Linked DNA regions of Homo sapiens: region 2 is linked to region 1. The links come from fine-mapping of genetic effects on gene expression. Tissue or cell type: sun-exposed skin. Region 1 holds a variant in brackets; the other region holds the start of a gene. All regions are shown on one strand. Distances are from middle to middle.

What was found. PIP is the estimated chance that this variant, and not a neighbour inherited with it, causes the effect.
Region 2: it holds the start of ZIC1, and the variant in region 1 is fine-mapped to the expression of ZIC1 in sun-exposed skin (GTEx, PIP above 0.99).

The regions. Positions count from the first base shown.
Region 1 is chr3:147,504,117-147,512,450 of GRCh38, forward strand. LOC440982 (a long non-coding RNA gene) reads left to right here. Exons shown (of 3, transcript NR_121655.1): 2 at 3,825-3,936; 3 at 5,479-5,794. Among named protein-coding and RNA genes, the nearest start is that of ZIC1, 99 kb to the left of the region's middle. The variant C/A (reference allele first, on the strand shown) is at 3,650.
Region 2 is chr3:147,405,225-147,413,558 of GRCh38, forward strand. It overlaps ZIC1 (Zic family zinc finger 1), which reads left to right and starts at 4,141. Exons shown (of 3, transcript NM_003412.4): 1 at 4,141-5,870; 2 at 7,294-7,457; 3 at 8,130-8,334. The coding sequence starts at 4,889. The coding sequence ends at 8,327. It overlaps ZIC4 (Zic family zinc finger 4), which reads right to left and starts at 1,319. Exons shown (of 5, transcript NM_032153.6): 1 at 1,139-1,319. RefSeq lists enhancers at 2,135-3,325, 3,748-4,328, 6,954-7,793, 7,794-8,334.

The DNA.
Region 1 (8,334 bases):
TGAAAGTGAAGGTCAGTCCCTACTGTTGGTAATTTATTTTATGGTTATGTGTCTACAGGTACATAAGAAGTAGAACATACTCAAAATGCTTTGTAAAGTTTACACATATTTGATTCTTGCAGCTCAAAGTGAAGAAGTGGTCTAGATATAAATGTAGGTGACTTGAATATAAAATATTGCTATTATATAATTTTGTATATCAGATATTAGAAAAAACAAGAATGTGATTATTTATGTAATAGGTTCAACTTCAGTAGTTACACAGCAATTTACTGAGTACAGAGTAAAAAAGTATTTAGTCCACAATTTCTATTAATTAAGAGTAGAAGATGATTTTTAGTAGAAGCTCCTTATATATTGTATGGTACAAGTCTAAAATTCTCAGAGTTAAAGAGAGGAGCTTTATGAACATGTGCTTATTCTGTTTCTCTTATTTTTTCTGGGAGAACGCTTAGTTCATTCTATGGAATTAAGGCCACCCCTGAAGTAATCTCTCTCAGAATTATGTGCTGCTTCAGGTATCCCAGTGAAAGAGGTCTCTCACAGTTCTAATATTTTTGATAAATTCATATATAGACCAAAATGTGAATGTGACATTATTTTAAATTCCCCAAATTATCTGATCTAATCTTAGTGTTCCAAGTGTAAATCTGAAGGGAAATTAAATCGTATTTTGTTGAAAGATAGTATTGTAGAGACTTACTATAAGGCTCTAGAAGTTACCTGTCTGTCATGAAAGATTTGTTTTTATGGGACTGAATGATATATTGTAGATTTCATAGAAAACTCTATGTTTTCAAATTTTTGATGTCCCAAATTTAATTTCACTAACTGATACCCATGGAGTGTTCATACTGAATTGATATGGGGAGAGATAACCGGCAGTGAAGAGGTGAACAATAATCTAGTTGCTCCAGGCATCTGTGATTTTTCCTACTTCTATATTATTTCAGGTGCTCTACATTTTGCTTTTAAAATAACCGTTTTAATTCTATTGATTTCTCTACATCTCTGCTTGTACCAGCTACCATCTTCTGTCACTTGGACTGCATGCTGACTTCCCTGCCTCTAGCCTCCCACTTTAAATGCCCTGACATTCATTCTCCGTACAGGAGCCAGTATTTTTTTATAGTGTAAGCCAAATTATGTCTCTCCTTCTTTAAAAGGCTTTCAAGGCTTTATTTATAATTGCCCAAACTGAAAATAATACAAATGTTCATCAACTAGTGAATGAATAAACAAATTATAATAATTCGTACAATAGAATTCTTTCAGCAATCATGAGCTGTTACATACCAGAACATCGGTGAGTCTGAAAGGCATTATGCTAATTAAGAGAAGCAAGACACAAAACCTACAAGATTCCATTTATTCCATTTACATGACATTTTGGAAAAACTATAGGGACAAAATCAGACCAGTAGTTGCTAGGGGGTGGTGGATGCAAGAGAACTTTTTGGTGTGAGGTAAATGATCTATTTCTTGATTGTGACAGTTGCACATCTTTATACATTTATCTATAATCATCAGTTTTACATGCAAAGAGTGAATTTTAATACATTCATATATGATGTGACATATTTGTATGTATCTGTCTCTGTCACACACATATACACACACACACTCTCTCTCTCTCACACACACACAAACACAAACACACATATATGTATAAAGAGAGTTCCAATCCTATAGAATGCGTTGTATCCCCCTAGAAATAAAAATAGGAAAGTAAACACATTTTCATAAAGTGCCTCCCTTTAACTCCAAGAATTTTGCACATGTATTGTAGGCTGTGAGGAGCTTCTGCCCCAAATTATGTACATGAGGTACATTATACCCCAATAAATGTGACTTAAGCATCAAAAAGCATTCAATGGCCTTCCTGTACTTAGACTGAAGCTCCATAGCCCTAACTGTGGTCTAGGAGGCCCCTTGTGAACTTGCGTCTGCCTGCCCTTCACCTGTTTTCTCCCACTACCTCTCATTGTTCTAGATCATTTAGTAAGTTTTCTTAGATGTTTGATATTTAACTTTCGAAACAATAATTAGCATTCAAAAGTAACATTTAATATTTGTTGAGGATTTAAAATGTGAAATTATATATCAATAATTCCTTGAAATGATACCTATATTTTCTCTTAAAAATTAAAATTCTTATCTACAAACTGTCTATATCTGTCATAATAGGCATCTTGATTTTTTGTTCATGGAAAGCGAAGAGAAGATTCAGTAATTTTAAATATCAGAGGGGTTGTTCAACTTAGACAACAGCTAGTTATTTTCTGTCAGTTGAACATAATATAGGATGAACTTATACTATATTAATTAATTACACAAATGATTTTTTATATCTATTATGTAACAGGACACATAAAGGGGGCATTTTCACTTTATAAATATACAAGGATTGAATTTTATTAAGTAATACGCTCTTCTATTTTATTTACAAATATAATTTAACATATAAGCCATCACAGTCATGTGCTTCAAGATATGTTTTGGCCAACTATGGACTGCATGTATGACAGTGGTCCCATAAGATTTTAGTGCTGTATTTTTACTGTATCTTTTCTATGTTTAGATACACAGATACTTACCTTTGGGTTGCAATTACCTGTGGTATCCAGTACAGTAACATGCTGTACAGGTTTGTTGCCTAGGAGCAATAGGCTATACTAAATAGCCTAGGTGTGTAAGCTACACCAGCTACATTTATATGAGTATATGCTATACTATGTTTGTACCAGGAGGAAATTGCCTAATGACACATTTTTTAGAATATATATCTGTAGTTAAGTGACACGTGATTGTACATATATTTCAGAAATATGCAATACAACTTCTTGTGTATTGAATGTGAGTCAATGCACAAATATATAGCAAGTACAATTTATAATGGGAGAGAGACTGAATATAGAAAACACACACACCCACAAAAAATTTATTCAATTCTAAGAAAAATACAGTTTTCTAAAAGTGGGAACATATAAAAGTAAAAATTTAGTTAACATATGTCTAAATTAGATTTACAAAGCTTCTATAAATGCATTAAAATAGATTCATATCAATCATTAAAATATCTCAAAAAAACTGATCATATATATTATCTGATAGTGTACCACATCACATTGGTCACCTTTACATACTATGCCTCCCAGGAGTATTTCAGAACTGGACAAAATTTTCAACTCATGTGAGAATTAGCAAAATACAAATTGAGCCCATAATGGTGTTATGGAATTTTAATTTTCAAAAATGTTCAGTTGGCTATTTCCTTCCCTCCCTCCCTCCCTCCCTCCCTCCCTTCCTTTCTTCCTTCCTTCCCTCCTTCCTTCCTTCCTTCCTTCCTTCCCTCCCTCCCTTCTTTCCTTCCCTCCCTTCTTCCCTCCCTCCCCCCAATTCTCACTCTTCTTTACCCTTCCGTTTTTTCTTACGCTCACTTATTACAGTCACTGTAAGAGGTTTTCAGTTTATGGCTCTAGGATATCTTCAATTCACCTGAAATTTTTGCTATTCTGCATGAATATAGTAAATATACAGACCACTGGCTAGCCTTAGTCCCAGAATTTACTTCTTTTCTCTTAGTTAATTTCCTTTTCAGTTCCAGGAACAGGAAAACATTACTCAGGGAACATCTTGTGCAATGATG[C/A]CACATCCATCACTTAATAAGAGCTTGTTTTCAACTTTCTGAACCAGCGGGGTGACCTTATGTTCCCAAGAGAGGGCCTAAAATGCACTGGGCAAAGCTCTACCTCTTGAAATGGCTGTTTGGTGTTACAGATGTTCAGGTGACTGACTGATGGTTTCCTCCCTCTGTATGACAGCTCCTGGGAAGCTCTAGGATGTGACTTTAAGCTGGAAAGACTCTCAGGAGCTAGGTTTGATATGGCACAATCTCAAGGCATCGCTAAGTCTGAAGTTCTTCCAGCAGGTCTGGTGAGTTCTGAAACTTTCCTGGCAAACCCATCTACTCTGACAGCACAAACAGAGAAATAAAAATAAGGGAAATATCAAAGTTAAGGCCTTCCTGGGTGTAGTATAACATACTGGTTAAAAGCTGTAGTTCTGAGGTTGAGATTGTTTGGGTACAATTCCTCATTCCACCACTGCTGGCTGCACAATCAGGGCATCAATTTTCTCATTTACGGTAATAAGAATATAATGATGAAAATAATAATAATACTTACATTCAATGGAATTACCATGAAGATTAAATTAAATTAACACAGCCTAGCACAAAATAAACATTAACTAAATGTTATCTGTTAGTATTGTTGTTATTGCTATTATACTGTTATTCTAAGCCTCAGCAGATAATTTGGCCACAACTGAGTAACTACTAGGGATTTTCTTGTATTATCAATTATACAAATAATTTATGGAACAGTTGTGATAAATATATACCTAAGGAGGCTGGGCATAGTGGCTCAAGCCTGTAATCCTGGTACTTTGGGCGGCTGAAGGAGGAGGATTGCTTGAGGCCAGGATTTCAAGACCAGCCAGGGCAACACAGAGAGACTTTGTCTCTACAAAAAATTTAAAAATTAGCTGGGTATTGTGGCACACACCTGCAGTCCTTGCTACCAGAGAGGATCACTTTAGCCCAGGAGTTTGCAGCTACAGTGAGCCATGATTATGCCACTGCACTCCAGTCCAGAAGACAGAGCGAGATCCTGTCTCTAAAAAAAAACAGAGTAAGAAGTTAAGAAAATTATTTTAAAATACATGTGGTTGCTAGAATTTAAAATATTCATCACCAGTTTGTATGGAGACAGGAAAATGTTGTGTCTTGAGTCAATTTTTATTAAGTTTTGTGCAAAAACATCTCATTTTCTTGGTTTTATAATTAGATAAAATATTCAAGGGCACAAAAATATTACTTAAAGGAGGAGGCGGCTTAAGAAGTAAGCCAATATATATTATATTTTCCTAGGATAATTTTCTGTAGGAAATTAGATTAGATGAGAAAAATAAAATTTCAGATTTCACTTGGCATTTTGTAACCCTGCTTACACAAAAGGTTAAAAACAAACAAAAATTTTACTTATCTCTTTTTATTGCACATACTTTCTCTGGTAAATTCTATGCCAGATGTAGGAAGCAAATTATTAAAAATACAACTTCCAGCAAATAAAGAGGCAATTATTGCTATACTGTTTTAATATAAAATCTGAGATAACTTTTCAATGAAAAATATTTATCATTTTTATATCTATTTCCTCATCTTCCTCTTTTTCTTTATTATTATTATGGTATTATCGCTGTAATTCATAGAAATGACACATTGCTAAATGGCAGTGAACACTGAACAAAGGTAAGACAAAATTAATTTATGCAGGAAAATGAGCTAGAAAAGCAGAAAGATCCTTTTCTACATAGTAAATACATTATTTGTAGAAATCATTTTTACTTGCTAAGTATTTCCAGGCATGCAAATAACTGTTATTCTCAACTGTCTTTTCTATGTCTTGGCCAAAGTAAACCACAAAGGACAAGCAGCTCAGAGATTAGCGAATGCGTCTCAGCTGTCCTAGAAAAGTGCTGTCAGCAAGTCTGAAGAGTTTCCCAGAAGCCCTGAAAGGACGCAATAGCATCATTTAGCAGAAAGAAACAGCCCTGGATTAATGTTCTTTTGGGATTCATCTTCTGGCTTTGTGATTTTGGGCAAGTTACTTATCTTCCTCCATTTATTCACATATATAATGAGAGGAGTAGTACCTACCTTACAAACTTTTCTGTGAGAAGCAAAAAAAATAAAAATAAAAAATAAAAAATAAAATTGTTAAATATTTGCTATGTGTAAAATGCTTATTCCTTTAAAGTTTTCATGTCAGTTAAAACATGTTATTGGCTTGAATCCTGACTCAAGAACGGAAATAGTAATTGTGTCTGCCATTCAGGGTGACACAGTTATTTCCACTGGTTCAGGGTGGTGGGGTGGGAGCTACTAGATAGAACAGGTGGGGCAATTCTTGATACATTTTCGTGTTTTTTGTTACTACTAATCCACCAACTCTTGTTTTCACTCAGAAGCAGATAAAATGGACATATTTATTATAGACTGAAAAATGATAAATGAGATTAATTTTAAAAATAAAATGAAAAGGAGAATAATTGTTTATAAATGTATGATTTATAAGTTCTGAATGTATAATTTATAAGTTCTGCATGTATGCATAATAAAATCATTTAAATTACAGGAGTATTAACTGAGTGAAGTAATTCTGATCATTTAGATTTATGTGTTCCTTGGACAGTCTTAAATGAAAACAAAACGTGATGGCTTTAGAGAATTTGACTTTGACTGGAAATGTTTTTAATTGGAGAGTATTTTGCATTAGCTGATGGAGTTAATTTCCCTAAGATCTTCAATAACTTGTGCATGTAGCACTAGCTAGTTGGAATCTGAGAATTCAGGGACATTCTTTATTATCTTAAGTAAAAAAATTGTGTTTGATGATATATGTAAAATATGCAAGCTCATATACTCTTTAAGATGGGATGAAAAAGAATAGTTCTATTGTACATTAGAATAACTGGGTTTTCTGATATAGTACTTCCCAGATGTTAGCAGCTGCAATGAAGATAACAAAATCAAGCACAATAAAGTATTTCTTGGGTCAAGTTGGAGAAACACAAGATTAATCAAAACTCTAAAATGATGCTTTCATTGCAGCATTTCTCAGAATCTTTACTATACCAAGGTGTATTGAGAATCTTTAAGGATGTTGGCAATATGTTCGCTGTGTTTTCTAATATTTGATCATCAAATCATTTTCTTAAGACGTTATTGTTAGGAATATATTTTGGAAAGTACTGGGTTGGAAGATCACTATGTTTTCTTGTCTTCATTTTTTAAATTAGGGAAAACAAAATTCATACAAATTCTAAGATGGCATATGAGTTTAGAATTTTCCACCACATATTCACCTTGTTTGATCAATTCTATTGGGGGCATTCTTGTATAGCTACCTTACAATGCAATTTCTAATGATAAGAGATTGTGGCTCCTGGCTTTTCTCTTTCTTCCTTCTAGCATTTTAAAAGTGTGGTTATCCCATATGTTAGGTCCAGAAAAATGTTGTGTTTTCCTCTGAGAATATCTGATCTTGATAATGGAGAACTAGACCAAAGTGGCATCTGGGATTTTTAAAAAAACTTTATTATACTTTAAGCTCTGGGGTACATGTGCAGAACATGCAGGTTTGTTACATAGGTATACACGTGCCATGGTGATTTGCTGCACTCATTAACCTGTCATCTATATTAGGTATTTCTCCTAATGCTATCCCTCCCCCTGTCTCCCACCCCTGGACAGGCCCTGGTGTGTGATGTTCCCCTCCCTGTGTCCATGTGTTCTCATTGTTCAACTTCCACTTATGAGTGAGAACATGCAGTGTTTGGTTTTCTGTTCTTGTGTTAGTTTGCCGAGAATGATGGTTTCCAACTTTACCCATGTCCCTGCAAAGGACATAAAATCATCTTTTTTTATGGGCATCTGAGATTTAAAGCATGAAGACAAAGAGAAGACACTCTAAATGAGTCAATTTCCACAAGAACTATCTTGGAACTTTGAAATACAATTTTAGAGACAGAATTTTAGAGACATCAATAAAATTGAGTCTGTAGTAAGTGATAATTATTATCATGTGTTCTATTCATCGTGTCCCAGGAAGTAGGGAAACAATAGAAAAAGAAAATCTCAGTTGAGAATTATGTTTTTGTTCTTTGTTGTTTTTGTTTTTCAACATTGATGCTACTGTCATTTTGGACCAGATAATTCTTTGTTGTGAAGGACTGTCCTGTGCACTGTAGTGTTTAGCCACATCCCTAGCCTGTACCCTCACCAGTATGGGGGCAAAACCACCCTGCATTGAGAATTATTGATCTAATCCTTTCCTATAATATTTTCTCCCTTTGGCACTCAAAGATGAGTATAGAAAATTCAAGGGCATTGTATTATGTATGTTCATGTGATTATACAATAAAACTACAAATAATTTCAGGAAGAATAACAATTGTGTAGTGGGTTTTTAAAATCATTTTTCTGAGTCTCAGTCTAGAAGTATGGGATCACTTTCTAATCTCCTATTAGCTGACCTAGCTGACTTACTTTTTTATCCTTGTGCCCTGACTGATTGTCATTTCTATTTAAAAGGATATTAGCAAAACTTTCACTTTTGCCTTAAAATGTTTAAGAAGAAAATTATTAAAACCGTGATTTAGAATTTCTCCTGGTTGGTATAATCTTTCAGGTATCAACAAACACTATTTTTTTAAATAAAACAAGTAGTTGCCAAATACGTTGTTTAAAACTATAAGCTAAATTGAAGG
Region 2 (8,334 bases), 99 kb before region 1:
ATCAGTAGATCAGGCTGGGCATTTAGCCCTCCCTTTGAATCACCCCTCCCCCAACCTGCAGGCGGCTGAGACAGGAGAAAAAAGAGCAGCATGCAGTGGTGTGGGTCGCTGCGAGGACAATACTGTCGGAAAGCGGGGAAAACATGACCTTGGAATCCAAAGGGAGTTTCCTGAAGACGGTGACGGCCGAAGTGCAACCCTCCAAAAGCCCCTCCGCTTTCCTAAGACTTTGACATGGGCCATTCATCAACCCCAACTTTCAGATCCAACCTTTGAGCCAGTCCTAGCTTTCTTTCACAGCTCAGCTCTATTCCCTCCTCATTGGCCCCTAATTTCCAATGCCCCTGGGTCTAGGCTAGGGGCCAGAATCCTAGGAGCTGCGGCCTGCTCCCCAGAGAGCTAGTTGCTGCTCTTGTTCGCATTGGAGATAAAGAAAGCCAAGTCCCGAACCCACTGCTGGCCGCGCGCAGAGAGCAGATCCCAGCAGTCAGCTTCCTGAGGCAGGACCAGGGTGAGGGAGGGCAAGGAGCCGCCCTGAGGTGGACTCAGGCGGCATCTGCCGTCAGGTTGGGGCGGAGAAGTTCCATCGTCTTGCTGCCATCTGGGCTAACTTGGCGCTTTGACCCTGGAGAGGGGAAGCAGAGACTCTCCTAGCCACCCCCTTGGGGGCAGAGCAGAGATACCTCCTGTAAAGGCCCCCTCCCGGCACCCGCCTTGCTCATTTTTCGCGAGGGAAGCTCTGGGCCACGACTTCCATTCTTGTGCCCACGGTGGGGCACCCAGGCAATTCACAAGGAGAGAAGGGAAGGCAGGCAGGCAACAAACTGCTCCTGGTTCCTGTGCCAGTGGGAGCCCCATTTGTACCCCTTTTCCCTCCTCCTGGGAAGAAGGGATGGACTCATCCTCTGCGTTGCCCCTTTGCGGAAGGGCCCCCTCCTCCCCTTAGTGTCAGTGGGGTGGGGCCTTTATCCACGGTTGGGGGAGGGGGGTAGGATGAAGGAGGAGATGGGGCAGAAAGACTGGCTGGGCCTCTTCCCCCACTGGGGTTTGGGTGCCAGTGGTCCCCTTGAGGGTACTTGCTACCCGGTCGCTGGAGGTACAGTTCTCATCTGTCTGCCCCCTGGACTCACGCACTTACCCCACTCCACCTGTTGCCAGGATCGCCTCATTTCTGCACATCATTTCGGGGTGGCTGAGAGGGGACCACAAACCCCTCCAAGCCTCTCTTTTGTGGTTCCAGCGAGGCGGTCATCCTTCACTTCTCCTTTTCCAGCTTTCAGGAAGCAGTTAGGGAATGTATGATGAAGCAGAAATGAGCCGTCAGGATGATATTTTAATGGCTTATATGTCACGTTGGTGCATGTGGCTTTGAACTGGAGCCGTTCGCGTTTCCTGCAGAGAGCGCCGCAAATCCCACTTGATAACTTCTACAACCCACAACTTTTTTTTTTCTCACATTCACTCTTACCCTGTATATTTGGATGTGTTTCCTAAAAATACCCTCTTGTCAACGTCCCCGTTGGATTTTCCACGGACTGGAGAGGAGAAGACTGACTTTTCTTTTTTGAAGAATTATTTTCCCTCTCCCCCTCCCAACAGCTACCCTTCCCCCCTTAGGTCCCCTCCCTTGTTGTGTGTGTGTGTGTGCGCCCGCGTGTGTTTCCTGAAAGGCGGGCGAGGTGGGTTCAATATCTGTTCTCCCTAGTGAGAGGAATACAGCCTCTAGAGAAAACTTCTCCATACAGATGAGGTTTTCTAAACTCCAGGGGAAGCAGGATCCAACTTCCCCTTGTAGGTAAAAAGACTTAGTGCCTCCGATATATCTTTTTTTTTTCCAACCAAGTGTACAATAATTTTTAAAGATACCTCGGCCCTTTCTTTACCTCCACTCCTCATTCCATTCCACTCAAAGTTGGTGGGAAATGCTGGGCTGCTAGACTCAGACTTGTTGATGGGAACAGAACAATTAATTTTTTTTCCGAATTTATATTTCCCGGCACAAGCACAAATGCTCAGCCAGGTCCCTTCAGGCACCGGGAAATCATCCCGGATACCCAAGCCGACTTTTGAGCAAGCACAGCCCATGGAAAGGGCAGTCCCGCCGGCCAGCCCCAAGCGAGAATCTAGTTGGTGAGAAGACCAGAAAACCAGAAAGGCGAGGAGCGGCGGACGCTGACCCTGCCTTCCTCCAGCCCGTGCAGTCAGCGCTGGCGTCAGGGCAAAAAATATATTCATTTTCATTTTCCTCTCGCTGGGGCACGGTGAGTTTCCTAACCGGGCCGCCTATGAAAGGATGAGTTGAGGTTTCTTTGTTTGGAAAAAGAGTTTAGGGCTTTGATTCAGCTGCAAAGAAGCCAAATGAAGTTAGAAACAAAGGGTAAATTGAAGGATTCCGACTCTTGGCTTTTTGTGTTTTCCTTACTAGAAAATAATTAGACCTAATGAATATGCAGACGCTTCAGCTAAAGCCTCGGCCAGGACTGCTGGGTTTTAAACAGAGCTGCGGAGAAATGCAACCTTCGTCCCCACAACCCCCCGCATCCGCGTGCATTTTTTGAAATGCATAAATGTTGCTCGGCTTAATTGATTGAGTCACAGGGATTTTTTTTTCCTGCTTTTAAGTACCATACTCCCCTACCTTTCAACAATCATTTTAATATATAGTCAATGGCTCTTTGTGGAAGGGACAAAAAGAAACTACGCGCAGTTGTTGAATAGACTTTGCGCTAGGCAAAGACAGGTTAATCGAGGGCCGCATCGCGAAAACAAGCGAGTGTTGTATGTTTGCACTGAATCCAAATGTCTGCATTTTCCTAACTAAATCAAAGGGAGTGTTATTTCTTTTTCTGCTCACTCATCTGAAGGTAAGTAAATTTTCTCTGGCGATCAAAAGCCTGGTCGGCAACAAAGACCGCGCCCGCTTTTTCCACCGTCCTGGTGTGGCGAGTTGCGGAATTTCAATAACTGTGACAAGGGTGACTGATTTGTGAACTAGAAAAGGTTTGAATGTCACAAAATTTACATTGGTCCTATCTATTGGGGATTTAAATACCGAAAAAGTATTCGGGGATCTCTAGGGAGCTTTGGGCAGCCCAAGGGAACAATAGCGCGTTGGGAAATTTACAGTTTTACCTGAATGAAAGGGGCCCAAGTAGGGAACAGGAGTGAGGAGAGACAGGGTTAGCGGGGGCAGTCGAAGGAGACAACGGAAAGGCAGAAAACAGAAAAATAACGCAAGAGAGAGAAAAAGTAAAGGAAACTGGCAACAACGTTTCAAATTTGCCATTAAAAAATTCAAACCTCAATAACCTGGGAACTTAAGCGCTTTCATCCACCTGTGTGTGTGAGTGTGTGTGTGTGTGTGTTTTCGGGGAGGGGGGTGCGGTGGTGCCGGAAGTCTGATTAGATAAAAGCGAGAAATACAGAGGCTGCCGGTTACACTGAGAAATTACATTTTTTTGTAAAGAGAGCATAGTGCCCGTGTGCTCCCAAGATCTTAAATTATAAACAGGAGGGGGACAAAGCAAGAGGGAAACAAACTTCAAAAGGAGCAAATAACAAAAGCCTCTTTTGCTGCTCTTGAAGGGAGGGGGGAAGGGGGAAGAAAGAAAAGAAAGTTGCTGAATCGGGACATTCTGGAAGTGCCTTTGCTGTGTTTACTAGCCCCATCCCCGCCTGCTGCACCCGGAGACGTCTGAAGTCTCTAATCGCTCAGCGAAAAGTTGGTTTCGGGAAGGGCAGCGCCGGGGTGCGGGAGGGCAAAGGAGGAAGAGGAATGCATATGACTGTGAGAAGGAAAAGTAATCGTGGCAAAAAAAAAAAAAAAAAAAAAAAAAGAAAGAAAGAAAAGAAAAAAGAAAAAAAATTTCCGTGAGAAGAGGGAAAAAATTTGGCTAAAAAAAAAGTTGCTACTCCTGGCAGCCCTGGTTTGTCAAAAGGGGATGTCAAGCGCTTTACAATACCTGGGATTGATGAGGCGGGCGGGCCAATGAGCTGCGCGCGGCGCCTCGGCGCGCCCTCCGTTGGCGCGGCGGCTGAGGGCGGGGGGAATGCGGGCGCACCAATGGGCGCCAGCGTCGGCAGCACGTGACACCTCCCCCCTGCTCCCATTCATCAAGGGGGGGACGGTGTCGTCCTTTCAATTCATTTATCTGCAGGAATGATTGCTGCTATCAGTCTCGCGCTCACCGCCCGGCTGAGGAGGTGAAAGTTTCTCCCCAGGAAGATAAACCGCAAAAGACAATATTGTGCATGATTTGCGCCTTTTCTTTGGCTTTTTCTTTCTTTCTTCACCCCCCCACCCACTTTTTTTTTTTTTTTTTTCAAAAAGCAGAGAGGGAAAAACGGAGAGTGAAGGAGCGAGGAGGCGAGCGTGAGAGAAAGGAGAGAGAGAGAAAAGAAAGGGCGAGGGGCTAGTGGAGAAGTAAGGAGGGGCGCGCTGCGCGAGGCGGAGAGAGGGCGAAGCAGTCGCGGCACTGGCGCTCACATTCCTCTATGCTACAAATCCAGGAGGAAGTTTTTTTTTAGGGGGCTGAGATGCTCCATGCCTTTCCCCGGGCAGCCTTGACGCGCGGCCCTCTCGGCAGAGACTGAGCGGCGAGAAAGTGCGAGCCGGGCCGGCAGAATCTGCCTGGCGGGCGCTGGAGCCTGCGTTACTCGCGGCCCGCAGCCGTCCGGCTACTTTGCGTTTGGCCCGGCCAGCGCCCGGGCGCGCCGCGCCATTGCCTGCAGGCTAGGACTTCGCGAGGTGGGTCGACTCCCCCTCCCTCCTCCTCTTCTTCCTCCTCTTCCTCCTCCTCTTGTTCCTCCTCCTCCTCCCGATTTTCCCTCCTCGGCTGGCGAGGGTGGGGGGGGCGGGGGAGGCCGGGGCTCGCCCCGAGCAGCCACGATGCTCCTGGACGCCGGCCCCCAGTACCCAGCGATCGGCGTGACCACCTTTGGCGCGTCCCGCCACCACTCCGCGGGCGACGTGGCCGAACGAGACGTGGGCCTGGGCATCAACCCGTTCGCCGACGGCATGGGCGCCTTCAAGCTCAACCCCAGTTCGCACGAGCTGGCTTCGGCCGGCCAGACGGCCTTCACGTCGCAGGCGCCAGGCTACGCGGCTGCTGCGGCCCTGGGCCATCACCATCACCCGGGCCACGTCGGCTCCTATTCCAGCGCAGCCTTCAACTCCACGCGGGACTTTCTGTTCCGCAACCGGGGTTTTGGCGACGCGGCGGCGGCAGCCAGCGCACAGCACAGCCTCTTTGCTGCATCGGCCGGGGGCTTCGGGGGCCCACACGGCCACACGGACGCCGCGGGCCACCTCCTCTTCCCCGGGCTTCACGAGCAGGCTGCCGGCCACGCGTCGCCTAACGTGGTCAACGGGCAGATGAGGCTCGGCTTCTCGGGGGACATGTACCCGCGACCGGAGCAGTACGGCCAGGTGACCAGCCCGCGTTCGGAGCACTATGCTGCGCCGCAGCTGCACGGCTACGGGCCCATGAACGTGAACATGGCCGCGCATCACGGCGCCGGCGCCTTCTTCCGCTACATGCGCCAACCCATCAAGCAAGAGCTCATCTGCAAGTGGATCGAGCCCGAGCAGCTGGCCAACCCCAAAAAGTCGTGCAACAAAACTTTCAGCACCATGCACGAGCTAGTTACGCACGTCACCGTGGAGCACGTAGGTGGCCCGGAGCAGAGTAATCACATCTGCTTCTGGGAGGAGTGTCCGCGCGAGGGCAAGCCCTTCAAAGCCAAATACAAACTGGTTAACCACATCCGCGTGCACACGGGCGAGAAGCCCTTTCCCTGCCCCTTCCCTGGCTGTGGCAAGGTCTTCGCGCGCTCCGAGAATTTAAAGATCCACAAAAGGACGCACACAGGTACGGAAACAGCTGTAGGACCCCTACCCATTCCCACTTGGGCCTGGGACCCAAACCGAAAGTCAGCGGCCAGGTCGCACAAACGCAGCCTCGGTGGGATCCCGGGCGTCAGGTTCCGGCAGGCAGGCAGGGAAAGTGTGCGCTGATTTTTAGTTTCTGGCTTGAAATTATGGAAAACACACACACACACACAGGGCGGACGAGGAGGAGCTGGGTATATAGATTTTTTAAATGAGAAACAAAAAAGGTCGGAGAACAGGAAGCCAAACCTGGTTTGGCGGAGACCTTGGTGCTTTCGAAGCCGGAGAAAGTGGCTGGCTCCCGGCAGCCGCGGAGGCGCCAGCTGCTCAGGCTGCAGACAAATCTAAACCCTTGCTTGCTGCCAACATCTCTCTCCGTGCACTTCACTGAGGACTTTGCCAAAGGAAAGAGCTGAGGAAATTGAGGAGGCCGGGTTAAGGGCGTAGAAAGAAACAAAACAGAGACAGAAAGAATTGAGACAGAGTGGGGAAAGGAAATAATTTGGGATTGAGGAGGCTTTTGGAGCTTTATGCATATTTGAAGAGTTCAGTTTTAGTAGTGACTGGTTTTAAGAGTGGGTTTGAGGGGTGGAGAAAGTCCGAGGAAGGCAAGGAAGAACTTGTTGTCTATTAGACTCCATGAGGGTGTTTTCAAAACACCAGATTCCCCTCTTTGGCCTTTAAAAATAATCAAGACACAGGTCCGGAACAGTTAAAAAAAAAAAAAGTTCCCACGAGCTCAGGGTTGTAGCCTGGCATCAGACAAAACATTCTGGGCCCCCTGCCCCCAAGAGGCCGGGAACTGGGTCTCCTTTCCTATTCTGATTTTCCCGGGTGAGATCTGAGAACCATGCTTGAGACTTCGGGTTTAACGCCCGAGTCAGGGAAGAATTTGCGGCGTTGAGTTCTCTCCGGCCCAGATTACGCTATAAAATGTGAGTGTATGTAGGGAGTGGGGTGGGTTGGAGGAGGCGACCAGGGGATGCGGAGCGTCGGGGAGGGGGCAGGGGGAGGAGAGAAAAGCAATAGGGCAGGAGAATAAGCCGCAAACGTGAAAACTAGAAACCAGGAGCCAGGTGGAAGCAATCCGAAATCGTGTGTAGCTCTGGGTAATACGAGTTTCCAGATCTGATGCTAAAAACCGACTCCTCCTACTATTAATTTTTTTAAACATAAAAATAAAATGTAGATCCAATTGTATTAGGGATTACAATAGAGTTAAGATATTTATAATTCCACTGCAGATGTAAGAATTTATTGACGTTCCGGGTTTTTAAGCTTGCAAAGTGCTAATCCTGGGCTGCTGGCTTTTTGTTTTATTTTTTTTCTATTTGTTTAGTTTTTGAAAAACGGCCGCGGTATTTTTTTCTAATTAGACCCCTCTCATTCTACTTTGGCACCAGGGGAGAAGCCCTTCAAGTGCGAGTTTGAGGGCTGTGACCGGCGCTTCGCTAACAGCAGCGACCGCAAGAAGCACATGCACGTGCACACGAGCGACAAGCCCTATCTTTGCAAGATGTGCGACAAGTCCTACACGCATCCCAGTTCGCTGCGCAAACACATGAAGGTAATCGCCGCACTCTCGTCGCCCCCTTTGAGGCAGGAGCTCTCTTGGCTCTCGGCTTGGGGTCGGGCGGCGAGTGGCAGACAGGCGGTGGCGGGAGCCAGAGGAAGCGGGAAGGCAAAGGTTCCACTCAGTGGAACTGGGCAGAGAAGGTAGGGCGGGACCTGGAAAAGGGGATGGGAGTGTCCAAGGCCGTTTTAAATTTTTGGTTTAATAATAAAAGTTAAAAGAGGCGAGTATGAGCAAAGGCCGCCACTGAATTTGGCCCAGAGCTAGGGCTTTTGCAGGGGGTTGACGCTGCGGAAACTGCTGCCCTTGCAGCTGCCAGTGAGACGCAAGAATTGGACTCCTGCGCCCAGGCCTGAGCTCTGGCTCACCTAAACATGGACAAGCAAAGTTCAGGGAAAGAAAGTGCAGTCTCTGGCCTCATATCCAGTCTCCCTCTTCCCAGACCTATTTTTCTTTTGTGAGTCTTGGGGACCCTGACTTTCCCAGGAGCACGGTTTCTGCAGGCCTGTGCAGAGAAACCAAGCCCAAAGTCCCGCTGATCGGGCCTCACCTGTGTTCAGGGGGCTCCAAGGGGTCCAGGAGGAAGGGCACTCGCGGCCTTCGCCTCTCTAGTCGGCCGCCGCACTGGCTCTTTATGTCCGTAAAAACGCGACTTTATTCCTGCAGGTCCACGAATCCTCCTCGCAGGGCTCGCAGCCTTCGCCGGCCGCCAGCTCTGGCTACGAATCCTCCACGCCTCCCACCATCGTGTCTCCCTCCACAGACAACCCGACCACAAGCTCCTTATCGCCCTCCTCCTCCGCAGTCCACCACACAGCCGGCCACAGTGCGCTCTCTTCCAATTTTAACGAATGGTACGTTTAAAATCAGA